Linked DNA regions of Homo sapiens: region 2 is reported to be linked to region 1. The links are microRNA targets in miRTarBase. Many come from high-throughput screens and were not tested one by one. Region 1 holds a microRNA gene; the other region holds the end of a gene's coding sequence.

Evidence for each region. Region 1 holds the annotated microRNA hsa-miR-29c-3p (UAGCACCAUUUGAAAUCGGUUA, at 1,612-1,633, opposite strand). A microRNA usually pairs through its seed, bases 2 to 8, with sites in the 3' UTR of a target mRNA and lowers its output. Matches are read on the target gene's strand: a 7mer-m8 pairs with bases 2 to 8, a 7mer-A1 pairs with bases 2 to 7 and ends in A, and an 8mer does both.
Region 2: the mRNA of LIMS1 is a reported target of hsa-miR-29c-3p. Seed matches in the 3' UTR shown: 7mer-m8 at 221-227.

What each region holds. Positions count from the first base shown.
Region 1 is chr1:207,800,254-207,804,323 of GRCh38, forward strand. It overlaps MIR29C (microRNA 29c), which reads right to left and starts at 1,686; the gene lies at 1,599-1,686. MIR29B2CHG (MIR29B2 and MIR29C host gene) reads right to left here. Exons shown (of 6, transcript NR_135299.1): 6 at 1,265-2,409. It overlaps MIR29B2 (microRNA 29b-2), which reads right to left and starts at 2,270; the gene lies at 2,190-2,270.
Region 2 is chr2:108,683,368-108,687,437 of GRCh38, reverse strand. It overlaps LIMS1 (LIM zinc finger domain containing 1), which reads right to left. Exons shown (of 10, transcript NM_001193483.3): 10 at 192-3,553. The coding sequence ends at 3,439. Among named protein-coding and RNA genes, the nearest start is that of LIMS1-AS1, 6.8 kb to the right of the region's middle.

The DNA.
Region 1 (4,070 bases):
TTTAATACTATTGTAGCCTATCTCAGTGGGAAGTGAACAAAACAATATAACTTAGGGTCTTAACTAACACCACCACTTAGGGTCTTCCCACCACATCCTGGGGATTAGAACATGGGTTCTTCCATCAACAGCCTGAAATAGCACTGCAGCTGCAGTGAGGGGGTGCAACATATGTACTGGCAAGTCTTCCCAGCAAATGCTACTTCCGCCCCCCACTCTCAGCCCACTGGGCAGGGCAGCCATCTAGAGGAAGACTGTGGCAGGGGGTTGGGCTTAGAAATGGCTTCCTAGGTGGCTGATTTGCCATCATTTATTGCAAGCCACTGGCTTAAAAGAGTTCTACTGAGGGTAGTTCATAGTCATGCACCTCCTGTGCAAAAAGCCTGATCAAGGGGCCACAGCCCGCCTTCCTGAAGATCCTACAAGCTTGATCCCCTATCAAATCAAATCTGGCTAATCTCTGAATAGCTTTACAAAACTGGCTCACTGGGCCAGGCGAGGTGGTTCACGCCTGTAATCCCAGCACTTTGGGAGGCTGAGGTGGGTGGATCACGGGGTCAGCAGTTCGAGACAAGCCTGGCCAACATGATGAAACCCCGTCTCTACTACAAAATACAGAAATTAGCTGGGCGTGGAGGTGCCACGCCTGTAATCCCAGCTACTCGGAAGGCTGAGGCAGAATTGCTTGAACCCGGGAGGCGGAGGTTGCAGTGAGCGGGGACAGTGCCATTGCACTCCAGCCTGGGTGACAGGGTGAGACTCCGTCTAAAACAAACAAACAAACAAAAAAAAAAAACAAAAAAAAACTGGCTCATCTTGTTTTGAAGTGTTGACATAAACTAATAGTCAAAAGCACCACTCAATCTTTTATAATGCAAGTGAAATCAGTGCTGTGCCCCTTCAAGGAACCATGTGACAGTATGTTTAGTTGAGCACCAGTTCCTTGCAGGAACAGTTGCTGGCAGAAGGGCTGTGTCTACAGCCCATGTGGAACTAAGGAGTTTTCCCATTCAGTAGGGAGCATCCCTCAGCCTTGATCTTCAACATTTCTTCTCTTCCCTAATCTTTTCTCTCATTTTATTTCTTGGCTCATAGAATTTCATTCTTCTCTTAATGGGCTTCATTTTTAATGTCTGGCTGGCTGTAACCTACTTCAAATTCTTTATGAAGTAGGCAAGATCTGCACAGCCAATTAATTTTTCAGGACCCACTTCTTATCATCACAGAATTATGAATGGGAAATAATAGATGAAAAACACAGACATGATAAACTGAACATAGTATTTATTAAGGTCAGGATGCATGAATAGACTCTTCTCAACAGAAAGATAATTCAACAGCAATCAATTTACAGAATTTAGAACAGCACTACATTTCAGCAAAATGCAACTAGAGAACATCAGATAAATTATAGTAATTTGTTTTTAAAAATCCATTAAACTATCTCTTACCTCTGCAATAATGTATCATACATGCAGTTACAGAAGTTAGTAGGGAAAAGCATGATCTTCCTTCCCTATTCTCTGCCCATCCATCTTCCAGGAAACCACAGGCTGCTGCTGCCCAGAGTTGGCATGAGGCTTCGAGGCTGCTGCTTTTCCCCCTACATCATAACCGATTTCAAATGGTGCTAGACAAAAACAGACTCTGAACACCAGGAGAAATCGGTCAGCCTGTGTAAGAGATGGGCCAGTGGTGCTCCCAGGGTCTGCACCTCGACAGTCCAGGTGGCAAGTCTGATTTCGGGTGCCCCGCAATCAACGCCGAATACTCCAGGGCATCCTCTAAGAGCAGACTGATGGTGTCGATGTGGACAAAATGGTCCTCCAGGTGTACTGCCCTCTCCCCTGCCCCATGACAATCGACACCCAATACATTGTTATCCAACAGAATATGACAATCGCCACACTCAAAGGCCCTACGAACACATTCATGCTGGTGATGGCTGCTAGGAGTCAACAGAAATAGCATCACAACCTCTGCCCCTGCTCAAGCCACTGTGTTTATTTTAAACACAACCCCCTTCTCTACTGTCACCTCTCCCAAAACCCAACAAACTCAAGAGTGTATTTTGCTCTTCAAGTTCTTCCCTGGACTTCTCGAACAGACTCAAGTGGCAAGAGGAGAGGAGCCAGTTCCATGAGCAGCAGTTCCTCTGCAGTCCACCCTTGGCTGTGCTGCAATTCTTACTCCTAAAACACTGATTTCAAATGGTGCTAGATACAAAGATGGAAAAATCTAAGCCACCATGTGAAACCAGCTTCCAGAAGAAGAGGATCTCAATGAAGAAAGAAGGGAGATTCAATCGGAAGACCCAGCCTCTGCCCTGAGGAGAAATATCTTCTTGTAGTTCTACTTGTGATATGACACAGTGCTCCATGGGAAAGGCACAGAGGAGGTTACACAGGGCTGCACAAGGCAACATGAAAGGCACAGCTGATGCTTCAAATAGATGAGAGCAATACAAAACTCATTAATTCTAGGTTAATTCTATTTAACTTCACACCAGTCACTACAAATTATTATATATGATGAAATAAAAGCTAAAATTATTACTAAAATACATTAATATTTACATTTGTACTGCCCTGCATTTGTATAGTATTTCACAGTACACAAAGTGTTTCCAGATATATTCTCTTACTTCATCAGGACACAAGCACCCTATCTGCCTGTGGAATGAAGCTCCAGCTGCTACACAAAGGCGAGTCTCACCTGGGCCAGGACAACTCTTTTATGTGTCTTAACTTGAGAAAAGCATGCATTCCTCCTTCCCACCCCATATGTAAGTATCAGAACATTCAAATATGACCCCATGAACCTGCAATCTTATTTAACCCCGATGTGACTTCAAAAACTGGTACCCTATAATTGTATTAAGCAGATAATCCTCTAACGTAAGAATTGAGTTTTATTTTCAAAGTCTGCTTGAAAATAAGATTTGCACACTGTATTCCAAATTAGATTTCCCATCTCCTTACTGCATCATCTTTTTTGGTGGTTTGAAGCTAAGAAAATATGTGTATTTCCTCTGATACCATAACCAAGAGAAAAGAGACAGAGTAGACACTGTATATTTTAGCTTCCTTTCAGGCCTCTAGATACAGCCTTATAATTTTTATGGTTCCTGGCACTAACAGTATGTGTTGCTAGAAGGAGAAGAAATAGAATTTGAACATCAAAAGTTGCGGTGTTTAATTCTCACAACAGTCGTATGGGGCAGGTATTATTCCAATTTTTGCGAAGAAATTCATCCTTAATGAGGCTAAATAACTTGTCTGCAGTCACACAACCAATCAATGCAGATCCCAGGTCTAACTCCAAAGACTGTGTTTCTGCCCTTGTATCCACTGCAGCCTGCTCCATAACTTGACTATCATCTCATTTTGTTCTTGAACTTCATTAAGAACAAAACAGGGTGGGTGGGGCAGGAAATTCCTAGGCGATACTTCTGCACTGAATGGGATCATACTGACTACATAACACGTTATACTTAGGGGGAGACAGGAGCATCATCTGGGTTCTGCGAAAGCCGGGTGGTCTGGGGCAGCTTGCTTTGTTCTCCTGCTCCTCTAGCGCCTTTGCCGTCTTTCCCCAGCATGTGGCTGTGGGAAAGACACTGAAGATGAACCTGCAACAAGCGATTCTGACACCAGCGCTAGGCTCTACAGCCCACGGGGGACTTGCTAGCCTCAGTCACAGGTGGGAGAGCTGGGGCAGATCTGCACACAAGGGCTCTCAGTGATGACACCTGTAGCCAACACCTGGGGCTTGTTAACCAGGTAACAGCCAGGGTTGTAAGGTCAGGAGTGAGTGTTTAAGGACAGTTACTACTGGGAGTCCAAATCCTGTCAAATGAGGGGATTTGATGAGATTCTCACTTTTCTGCTTTTCATTTTAGCCACTCTTCCTTATCAACTTTTAGTTACCAGTACCCCCTCCCTATGAGCTATCACACAGGTGTCCCGCAGTGATCAGAAAGCACCTTCCTCCATGGCGAGGTCCTGCCTGCCTAAGCTGTTGTCTCTTCTGGAATACTCTCCTTCACCCTCCCTTGGCTACCACCCCTC
Region 2 (4,070 bases), not on the chromosome of region 1:
TTAAAAAACCCAGCATTTACATTGAGTAGAGGGAAGACTACACCATTGTTCTAGATGGTTCAAAATTTGGCTTATCTATAGTAACCAGGTCATTTTATTCATTTACTTGTTTCTATTATATATTCATGAATACTTCAATTTTCATATGTATTTCACATATATACCATTCAAAATAAACAATATACAACAGGTTATTGTTAACAATTATAAACATTTATTAAGCACCAAGAATATACTGTGGTGGTTGCTATATGAAAACATAATTACCAATATAGTATCCCTGCCATTGAGCTTACAATCTAAAACGAAATACAAGGCTATGAGCCTATCTAAAAACTTCCTTAACTTAGAAATGGCTACTTTGGCAAATGAGTGAGGCAAAATGACCTATTATTCAGGTGCAGTGCTAATAAGGCTTTGAATATCATCCAAAGAATGTTTTACTTGTACCCATTGTTCCTGATTATGTTACACTTGCTAAGAAAAACAGTACTTAGAATTTTGGCATGAACAATGAATTATTTCAAATTGTCTTGTAGGACTTTAAACAAAGAGATGCTTACTGGCCTAAGTTTTCCAGCAGCCAGGGAAAGCCCTATTAAAAATATTATGAACTAGACCAAGTTTCTCTTTTAATCCACTTACACTTTTTTTTTTTTTTTGAGACGGAGTCTTGCTCTGTCGCCCAGGCTGGAGTGCAGTGGTGCAATCTCGGCTCACTGCAAGCTCCGCCTCCTGGGTTCAAGCCATTCTCCTACCTCAGCCTCCCGAGTAGCTGGGACTACAAGCGCCCGCCACCACGCCTGGCTAATGTTTTTTTTTGTATTTTTAGTAGAGACGGGGTTTCACCTTGTTAGCCAGGATAGTCTGGATCTCCTGACCTCGTGATCCGCCCCCCTCGGCCTCCCAAAGTGCTGGGATTACAGGCATGAGCCACCACGCCCGGCCCACTTACACTTTTTAAACTTCTTCCTCTTCTCCTATACCTAAGGGCTCCAATGATACTACTTATCAGGGAAGAAAGTACTGTATCTAGATAAACTACCCTTAAGTATTACAGGCTTAGCAAGTTGAATTTCTAGAAAATACTCATTCATAATTTATTTATTTATTTTTTTTGAGACAGAGTCTTGCTCTGTTGCCCAGGCTGGAGTGCAGTGGCGTGATCTTGGCTCACTGCAAGCTCTGCCTCCCGGGTTCCCACCATTCTCCTGCCTCAGCCTCCCGAGTAGCTGGGACTGCAGGTGCCCGCCACCACGCCCGGCTAATTTTTTTGTAGTAGAGATGGGGTTTCAGTGGTAGCCAGGATGGTCTTGATCTCCTGACCTCGTGATCCACCTGCCTCGACCTCCCAAAGTGCTGGGATTACAGGTGTGAGGCACCGTGCCTGTCCACTAATTCATATTTTAAAAGAGGACTGAGCAAAGACAGCAATGGAACCTCTGGCTGCAGGAGATGCCTGGGTATGCCTGATATGTAAACAAACACAAGCAGTCGAGTTCAGGCCATGCATCTTCAAAGTGACGAAGAATATATGTAAATGCTTGTTTTTCTCCTCCATATTTCTCGTGTAGAGGTATATGAGAATTTAGCATCAAGACGCTATACTGCAAACCCTGTTCTGTGTTGCCTATATTCATAGCATAATATTTAATAAATACTCCCAAGGTTGTCATTGCTGGTCACATATTAGCTGACAAAGGCACACTGAAGGGACTTTGATTCTTACTGTAAAATGCAAAGATTGTTTTAAACTACTCAACATATACAATCTTAAACTATGTGATGATTATTCTCGATCATTTATGATAATTTCAATTCTAAAAGATTACTAAAAAAAATTGGTTGTAGGGTATCTGAAAACAAAAATAGAATGTACTCCATAAAGTACATGCACAGAATTTTTAAAAATGCAGGCATACAAATATTTAATGGCAGAGTGGTAATAACCTGAGACTTTTTAAAAATGGCAAAACAATATTTCAGCAATTTTTGGAAAAAAAACCCAAATATTTTCCCTAAGAAGTCTCTCTTGGCAACTTTCTTTTTAAGCAACAAAGCAGCAGCAACATTTTTAAATGTTCATAAAGCTCGCTTTCCATTAACAAGTTTATTAAGGAAGAGTGGTCCTGAAACTTCAGGATAAAACTTTTGATAAAAATAGAATCACTAATTTTGACCTAAAACAGACACTAAAACACCCCTCCTTCCAATTTAAGAGTGTCATTTATACCTCCTACTTACAGTAAATAAATCAAATTAATTATAAGATTTCAAATGGAAAATCTGAAACACATATCAACATCATTTTCTTCTAATAAGATAACAGAAATTAACTTCAATGGATTTCCCCAAAAAGAGAATAGTTTCTAAAAACTTAATTACAGCTGTGGTAAATGAATCTGGGTTTACCAATCTCAGATCTCAATGCACTTAGTTTTAGTTGGTATTCTGTGAGATGGCTAGAATTCCTGATTTAAGTATGTAGTATGTATGTTTTTAAGGCAAGGCAAGTTTGAGTATGTATAAAGCATAGATATTAGCATGGTTATAAAGGCAATATGACCGACATACACATTCAGTTTTCTGAAGCAATATATTCCAAGCTACATACAATTTAATTTCATGTCCTATTCTAAGACTACATGCTTAACATTAAGCTTAGAAACATAATTGCTGTAATACATTAAAAATACTTCATTTTCCAATATTGTAAAGTATATTTCCAAATACCTGGTATAAATTTTTTTTTGCACAAAAATTTAAAGGACATCCTACAGCTAGCTATTACTACTGCGTTAAGTAATCATTTGAAGGAAGAATTCACAAGGAGAGCAGGTTATAAAACTAAGCATAATAATTATTGCATTTAACTAAAAAAAATCAAGTAGTTCTGAATTACACTTGTTTTTTGTCTTAGTAATGTGCATATTCACTTTCTAGCTACTAGTTTGATAAATATACTAAGATTGTATAAGATTTGTTTTTCTTGTTTTTGTTTTTCTTGGGTGGTTATTTTTCTTTTCTGTGTCCTTCCCCAACAGCAGTTGGAATTTTCTTTTGAACACAAAGTAAATTAATGTTTATACTGTTTTTTCACCTGAGTCATGTAAAAGGTGACTCCTTTCATTTTAAAAAGTTATATTTAATTTTTGGGGGCCTTAATTAAAATTTAACATTTAACCATGTGTTTTTTTTTTGTAAACAGTCTACATGTCAACAAATGGATAAGGGTTAACAAAGGCAAATACTGACTTCATTTGTGTTTTAAACACGATTATATGAATTTTTCTTTTTTAATTAAAAAAATGACATAAAACCATTCATATAGGTCCTCTTCTCTCAACTGCTTTGAGATATAGCTTTAAATATGGGTAGATCAAGACAAGTAATGTTGGTAATCTCTTATCTTGCATAGAAAAGAAAAAATAAAGGAACTTATTTCCTTCCTAAGGTCTCAGCTAGTTTCTTAAGTCTTTTCTTCAGCTCCAATGGAAATTTCTCATAGCACTTCTTACAGACTGGCTTCATGTCAAACTCCACAAACTTATTCCTAAAGACAAAAAATTATAAAAAAAAAGAAGTTAGTGGAAACATATTCAACAAAGATATATAAATGATGTGCAGTAATTGTACTGAACTAAACGAAGGCAACTAGGTGATGATATTATATTCATGTTAGTAAAAAAACCATAATCCTAACCTCAATTCTTATTGTGATATATATATAAAAATTCAGTATAATTTTAAAAAAAAGTCCTTATAAATTGGTTCTATACATCCATCTGTGTAACACAGACTGTAGATTACATTTTATTCAGTACTAAGTAAACAGGAAATCTAATGTAAATATAATTAACTTAAGTACAGTCAATCACTTTTTTTTTTTTTTTTTTTTGGAAACAGAGCCTCGACTGTCACTCAGGCTGGAGTGCAGTGGTGATCACAGCTCCCTGCAGCCTCTAACTCCTGGACTCAAGCCATCCTCCCACCTCAGCCTCCTGAATAGCTGGGACACAAGTGCATACTACTATGCCTGGCTAACTTAAAAATTTTTTTTTGTAGAGACA